Linked DNA regions of Homo sapiens. The protein of the gene in region 2 interacts with the protein of the main gene of each other region in a pairwise test. Each region holds a gene or a part of one and is shown on either strand. Other genes may lie near its edges. The genes, in order: PEDS1-UBE2V1 and SLC30A4.

What was found.
Region 1: the proteins of SLC30A4 (region 2) and PEDS1-UBE2V1 interact in a two-hybrid assay, tested with the Homo sapiens proteins (one large-scale study listed by BioGRID).

The regions. Positions count from the first base shown.
Region 1 is NC_000020.11:50,125,943-50,129,760, forward strand, and holds part of PEDS1-UBE2V1 (TMEM189-UBE2V1 fusion protein), read right to left. Parts: intron 3,749-3,818; coding exon 3,604-3,748; intron 2,246-3,603; coding exon 2,033-2,245; intron 1-2,032. Other genes in the region: PEDS1 (plasmanylethanolamine desaturase 1), read right to left, coding at 2,033-2,245, 3,604-3,748.
Region 2 is NC_000015.10:45,509,164-45,512,981, forward strand, and holds part of SLC30A4 (probable proton-coupled zinc antiporter SLC30A4), read right to left. Parts: intron 2,122-3,818; coding exon 1,975-2,121; exon of another isoform or gene 1,973-1,974; intron 1-1,972. UniProt on the Homo sapiens protein: Probable proton-coupled zinc ion antiporter mediating zinc import from cytoplasm potentially into the endocytic compartment. Controls zinc deposition in milk.

The DNA.
Region 1 (3,818 bases), on a different chromosome or scaffold from region 2:
TTGAACTCCTGGGCTCAAGCAATCCTCTCGCCTTGGCTTCCTAAAGTGCTGGGATTACACGCGTGAACCACCATGACAGGCCACCCTCTTTCATTTCTTTATAGCCTTTATGATAACCTGTAACCATCTTCGTTAATTCTCTATTTTCCTGTTCTGTGTTTGTTCACCCCCCAATCCCCAACTGGAACGTTATCCCCAAAATGCAAAACACCATGTTCTTTCACTGCTGATCCTCAGTGCTTAGAATACAGCCAGGCGCAGAGTAGGTGCTGAATAAATATTGCTCACAATCTTACAGCCTTCCAGCTCACCATGAGGTAGATACTAATATCAGTCCCATTTTCCACATGAGCACACTGAGGCTTAGAGAAGAGTTTCCCAATTAGCAGGTGGCCAAACCAGGATTGGAACTCAGCCCTGCCTAAGTAGTTAACCCATCTCCTAAATAGCCTGAATTCTAATCCCTCCACCTGCCTTCCAAGGAGCACAAATTGAGGACATGAAAAAGAATGTTTTTTTGTGGTTCTCAGTTCTGTTTCCAGAAAGACCTAAAAAAAAATAGTAGCTGTAATTTATCAAGTACCTACTATATGCCAAACACCGCATTTGCCATTCCCACTATGGCCCTAAGAAGGTGATATATGAAGGAGGCGGCTGCAGCCCTATTTTGTAAGGAGAAAAGCGGTCCCCAGGGAGGTTTGTGAGTTGCCTAAAGGCACATGTGGAGAAGCTGAGAGTTAGGCCTGAGTTAGACTTGACAGCACCTGATACACTTAACCTTGAAAGCAGCCCAGCTGGCTCCAGAGAAACTCCCAGTTCACCTCACCTCTTTCGCACTGGCTGCTAACTGAGCATGGCACGTGGGCCTCCTTTCCCTTCCTCCACTGCACTGGGCATGTTCCTGCCTCTGGCCTGCTGCTTCCTGTTACCTTTGCTCTAATCTGTGCTCATCTATCTTCAGGGCCCTCCCACACTTCTCTCCTCCCTCTTCAGTTGCTCTGCCCCCTTCTCTCCTCCCTCTTCCACTGCTCTGCCCGCTTCTCCCTCTTCCATTGCTCTGCCTCAACTCCAGTCAGGAGCCTCTTTGCCATTCCGGAAACACACCAAGCAAGCAAAGGCCAGCCTCAGGGCCTTCGCACCTACTGTTCCTGCTGCCTAGAGTGCCTCCCACAGAGGTCTGCACGGCTTTGTCCCTCAGCTCCTCGGGGTCTTTGTTCAAGTGTCACCTTCCCTGACCACCCGATTTAAGAGGCAAAGCCCCCACTTCCTTCTCCCACCCCTGCTTTATTTTCCTCCATAGCAGTTAGCACCATTAGCCACGCTACACATTTTATTCATTCGTTCCAGCTCCCTCACTAGATGGTGAGTGCCACAAGGGCAAGGATCCGTGTTTTCTGGTTTTTTTTTTTTTTTTTTTTTTTTTGAGACAGTCTCTGTCACCTAGGCTGGAGTGCAGTGGTGCGATTTCAGCTTACTGCAACCTCCACCTCCCAGGTTCAAGCAATTCTCTTGCCTCAGCCTCCCGAGTAGCTGGGATTACAGGTGCCTGCCACCAAGCCCAATTAATTTTTTTTCGTATTTTTAGTAGAGATGGGGTTTCACCATGTTGGCCAGGCTGGTCTCCAACTCCTGACCTCAAGTGATCCACCCGCCTTGGCCTCCCAAAGTGCTGGGATTCCAGGCATGAGCCACTGCGCCCAGCTGATTCATGCTATTTTGTTTGCTGCAGGAGCCTACGCCCAAAGCACCATGGCATGTGGTAGGTGCTCAATAAATACGGGATGATGGGTGGCTGGAATCACAACGCCATGAAGTCGAGGGAGAGGGCTTTGTCAGTCTCATTTACTGTGTCCTCAGCACCTAGAATAGTGCCTGGCACACAGTAGGTGCTCAATAAATGCATGACCTGAGAGACTGTTCCCAGAGGGCAAGGACTGTGTGACCTCCTGCTGTGATCTCTGCCCTCCTGACCTCGAAGATGGTGCAGTGGCTGGGGTGGGGAAAGCCCATTCCACGCCACTGGTGGCCGCACCTGTGGTGATGCAGAAGTAGGTCTCGTGGGGTGAGACGTGGTGGATGCGATGGTGTTTACGTGGCAGGATGACATGCCAGTCCTGCAGGAGGGTGACCCAGCGTGGCAGCCCAAAGTACGTGTGCGACCACTTGTGGATCTGGTTGGTGAAGGTGCCGAAGATGATCAGGCAGAAGACGAAGCACTCCCAGGGGTATAGCTGCTCCAGGGCTTCTGCAGGTTGGGGAGAGGGGGGGCCGGCACAGCTGTCACTCGGGACGGGGAACCCACCCCAAATGGCCCTCACCACCTGCTCCTGGGCGGCTCCTGAGCTGGGCAAGCACCCAGGATTCTCTTCCACCCCCTGCAGGGCCGCAGGCAAGCTCAGGTGCTGCCCTGGGCTTCAGGCTTTCCTCCTGCTCAGGAAGCAGGCGTAATGGTGTAATAGGATAATGGCATAAGCATGGCAATGGCTGGGAATGTAGACCGGAGTCAGCTGGAGCTGGGTTCCGATCTCTGCCGACATTTCTTGGCAGTATGGGCTGGATCGGTGACTCTGCCTCTAAGAAGCTTAATTTCCCCATCAGGAAAATGGGAATGATGCCTTCACCCAGGTTCCCTAGAAGCGGAGCCTGAAACAGGTTCTTGTGCATGTGATTTATCAAGGGAGCCTCTTCAGGAAAAAACCTCGAAGGGAGGGAGGGAAGCAAGACACGGCAGGGGAAGAGCAGAGCAAAGATGGGGTGGGTGGCGTCCTGTCTCAGTCTGTTCCTGCAAGGAGCTCTGAGGTGTTAACGGCTCTTTAGAATTAGACCCACTCAGAGGCAAAGGGACTAGCGTCGGAGGCGTTTCAGTCACTGGCTCCAGCCTTATCCCAAGGAGACAGGTGGGACCTCCCCTCCATCCCTGGAGAAGCTGGGAGCTGTCAGCAGCCACCACTCACAGAAGCAGGGGCTGGGTGCACCCCCAGGGAAGGGGATGGGCAGGGTGCCATAGCACCCACTACACTACACGTCCTCACCACCTCTACCCACCGGAGGCTGCCTGAAGAACAAATGGGTGTTAAGGTGCTGGAACAGGACCGGGCCCCAACCTACCTCCACCTGACAGATAAGGCAACTGAGGCTCAGAGTGGTGAAATCACTTACTTTGGGACCAGTCCCTCTAAAAATAGGCAGGCCCTGTTTTCACAGCCTAGACATTTTCCACTAGGCCACGGTAGCAAAACCCCAGAAGCCCTGCCAGGCAGGTAACACAAATGAACAAGGTGGGTTGGGTGCAGGGAAGCAAGGAATAGTGGGGACGGTGGTAAACTGGAAAGACGCGTCCTGTCAAAGGCAGTGGCTGCAGCTCAGCTCCCACCCAGTGAGGCCAGGTGGGAACATGGACCCAGGGGGGCCAGAGCAGATTGTGCAAGAGAAGCTGGAAACCTCCATCTTCATGTCAGGTTTCCTGATTTTACATGAAGACAATGAATGAAAACTCTTTTAAAATACCATAAGGAGCCAAACACATAAGCCCCAGAAGGCTCCTGGGGGTCGGCCTCTGCCCCCAAGGCCCCCTCCCAGCCCACCACTAGCTGGGTGTCTCACCAGGGCTGTGGGTGCGGAACTTGTAGGCCATGTTTAGCAGCGGCAGCAGTGTCACCAGGCAGTTGTCCCCGTTGGTCTCGATGAAGTCGTGCCGTGTGATAGCTGTCGGGTCAATGTGGTGCTCCCGGAAGGGTCGGATGAAAGCCTGGAGTTGAGGGGGACACAGCCCCAGCAGTCAGCCTAAGGTGGTCAGCTGCTCTCCACAGCCCCCTAAA
Region 2 (3,818 bases):
CTGTTTAAAAATCCTAAGGCAACCAGTAAACAAATGACTATATAATATGTTGAGAAGCAGTGGAGTTTCCTTTAGGAACACATTCTTTTTTTTTTTTTTTTTTGAGAGAGACAAGAGTCTTACTCTGCCGCCCAGAATGGAGTGCAGCAGCATGATCTAGGCTCACTACAACCTCCGCCTCCCGGGTTCAAGCAGTTCTTCTGCCTCAGCTTCCTGAGTAGCTGGGATTACAGGCGTGCACCACCATGCCCAGCTAATTTCTGTATTTTTAGTAGATATGGGGTTTCACCATGTTGGCTAGGCTGGTCTTGAACTCCTGATCTCAGGTGATCCGCCCACCTCGGCCTCCCAAAGTGCTGGGATTACAGACGTGAGCCACCGTGCCTGGCCAGGAACACATTCACATGCATTATGCAGTAGCTTAACAAAAGAAAAACTTCACTTGGGGCTTTAGCTCTTTTGTACAGTAGCTGAGAGTACGGAGGGGTGGGGATGCTAGATAATTTTCCAACCTGATGACCTGGATAGCTACTTGGAATATCACCATTTAGGTACAGTGTCAAGTTTTGCACCAGAAGACCCAGTCACTAAGTAAGAGGTCCTGGATGCTGTGGGCCAGTCATGGCAGCTCACACCTGTAATCCCAGCACTCTGGGAGGCCAAGGTAGGAGGATGGCTTGAGCACAGGAGTTTGACATCAGCCTGGGCAAAGGATGACCCCCTTGTAGGTAGGCCCTGTCTCTACAAAAATCACAAAAATTAGCTGAGCATGCTAGTGCACGCCTATAGTCCCAGCTACTCGGGAGGCTGAGGTGGAAGGATCACTTGAGCCTGGAAGGTGGAGGTTGTAGTGAGCTGAGATCACACCACTGCACTCCAGCCTGGGCAACAGCGCAAGAAGATCACACCACTGCACTCCAGCCTGGGCAACAGTGCAAGAAGATCACACCACTGCACTCCAGCCTGGGCAACAGAATAAGACTCTGTCTTAAAAGCAAAAACGAGAAATAAATTCAAAGAAAATGTACGTAAAGAAACAAAAAGTTTACTGCACTCCAGCCTGGGCAACAGAGCAAGACTCTGTCTTAAAAGCAAAAAACAAAAAACAAATACAAAGAAAATATAGGTAAAGAAACAAACAAAAAATCTACAGTCTAAGTTTTTTTAGGCTAAAAAATAAAAAAGATGATGAGGAATTGATTGATATATTAGCCAGGAGCATCAGTGTTCCTACAAAATGAAATTATCAGATATTAACTCTAGTTCTTTGAGGCAAGTTTTGCTGAAGCTACTTAAATGTCAACTTTTGGGTTCTACTTTTGAGTCTGACATCTGGGTAAATGTTACTTCATATAATAGTTCAGGTAATTATTTTATACATATTTTCAAAATAAGCAAAAAATTTAAAAACAGTAATACAGTAAGAAGCAGAGCTGTGTAGATAGCAATGTATGATTTTAACTCTTTATAATTAAACATTAAAATTTGTTCAAAACAGGCAAATAAAAATGTGTGCATTTGCAGAATTATGTTGATACGATGGCTGCAGTCAAGTTCAGCCACACAGCATACATTATACCTGTGATAGCTCTGCTTAAAATCTAAGCTATGGTAGCTTTGGCTGAAATACCTGAAGTAAAAGAGAGAAGCTAATGCTCATTAACGGGTTAAACCCATGTGGTTTTGCTTTGTTCAATAAACTGAAAGTAAACTTTTTTCTGATGATATCTTCAGGACATAGGGAGCAACCTTTGAAGATTAATGATCATCATATAATTTTATATGTGTAAACTGTTTAGCTGACTAGGCTAAATGTACCCTGGAAAAGATGTTTCTGAATAAATTTTGTTTATCTATTTTCATTTGCTTTGTTCAAACAAGATATCACTGGAACGAGTTCAGTTAATCAGGGTTATAGTTCATTGTGGTTTTACTATAAAATATTATAAAGCAAAAGAAACACCAACTACCTACCTAAGCGATGAAATCCAAAGGTGAATCTTTTGGTTGGTGATTTTGATGATAGCCACAAAGCAAGCAGGGTGAGTATGATGGCGCTTAGGTCAGTTAACATATGAAGTGCATCTGTCATGATTGCTAGGCTATTTGCAATGTATCCACCTTAGAGTTACAAGTAGGAGAAAAAAGGAACAAGTTAATTTTTTAAAAAAGCAAGCAATCAAACTAGAAATATGCAATATCCTACAAAACATGAACTTCTAACTAAATCTTTATCCCATTACAATTAAATCAAGGTATTCTGAAATTTCATTCAAAATATTAGATATAGGTTCATTTTTCTGGTGAGAATATCCACTTCTTTTTTTCTTTTTTTTTTGAGACAGAGTCTCACTCTGTTGCCCAGGCTGGAGTGCAGTGGTGCAATCTCAGCTCACTGCAACCTCTGCCTTCTGGGTTCAAGTGATTCTTCTGCCTCAGCCTCCCGAGTAGCTGGGACTACAGGCACGTGCCACCACGCCCGGCTAATTTTTGTATTTTTAGTAGAGACAGGGTTTCACCATGTTGGCCAGGCTGGTCTCAAACTCCTGACCTCAACTGATCCACTCGCCTCGGCCTTGCAAGTGTTGGGATTATAGGCGTAAGCCAATGTGTCCAGCCAGAATATCCATTTCTAGTAACACATGCTGCAAGGAGTCAATGACCTTTAGAAAGTTAAGAACCACAAGGCAAATATATAGTGATTTTGTGTCTTGGTACTGAAGCTTTTGCTTAACTTACTAATTCTACTATTAGTGAATTAATAACCATATCTAAATATTACAACAAAGCTGAAGAAAAGAAGGGTGTTCACTTGTTGAGGGGCGTTGGAACATAAAATTAAACTGAGAAAACCTACAAAATGTACATTAGTTCGATATAAAATATGTAAAAATTAACTGATTCACTTAGCAACATCTCTGAAGAGGGGTACAAAAGGTAGTATTTAGGATACAATTTTTGTTATCGATTTTCCAGGCATTTAATATATATATTATACATTGTTTCATTGTGTGTCTGTATTGTCCCATAATGGACAACCAATTTTCCTAGCACTATTCACTGAATAAGCTTTTATGTGTATCAGAATCACCTGGAGGGCTTGTTAAACTACAAACTGCTTAACTCTACTCCCAGAATTTCTGATTCGGTAGGTCTGGGATGGTGATGGGGATGGGACCTGAGAATGTATATTGCTAACATGCTCCCAGGTAATGCTGATGCTTCAAGTCTTGGAACCACACTTCGAGAATCACTGTTATAATGTACAGCAGAACTGCATGATCAGGTAAGTGTGCTGAGCTGTTGATCCTCCTCATTCCTGAGCTGGGTGTGTAGAGACAAGAGCAGGAGACTAGGGGCTGATGATCTTTTAGTCACATCCATTTACCCCAGAGTGCTCTATACAAATAGCATTTTTATGTATTCCCCGGCATGAAAAAGCTGGAAAGCACCAAGAGAAGGTTGGTGTTAAACAACATGAAGTTTTGGAATCTCAGAAAGTCTGAATGAGTTAATTTTTTTGAGCTTTAGCATACTTATCATTTTATAATGAGGATAATTCCTTAAAGCAATTCTGTCCAATAGAACTTTGAGATGATAGAAATGTTCTGTATCTGAGCTGTCCAATGGTGTAGCCACTAGTCACATGTGGCTTTTCAGCATTTAAAAAATGGCTAGTAAGGTTGGGGCACAGTGGCTTATGCCTGTAATACCAGCTGTTTGGGAGGCCGAGGTGGGAGAACTGCTTGAGTGTAAGAGTCTGAGGCTGCAGTAAGCTTTATATAATGGCACCAGTTCACTCCAACTTGGGTGACAAG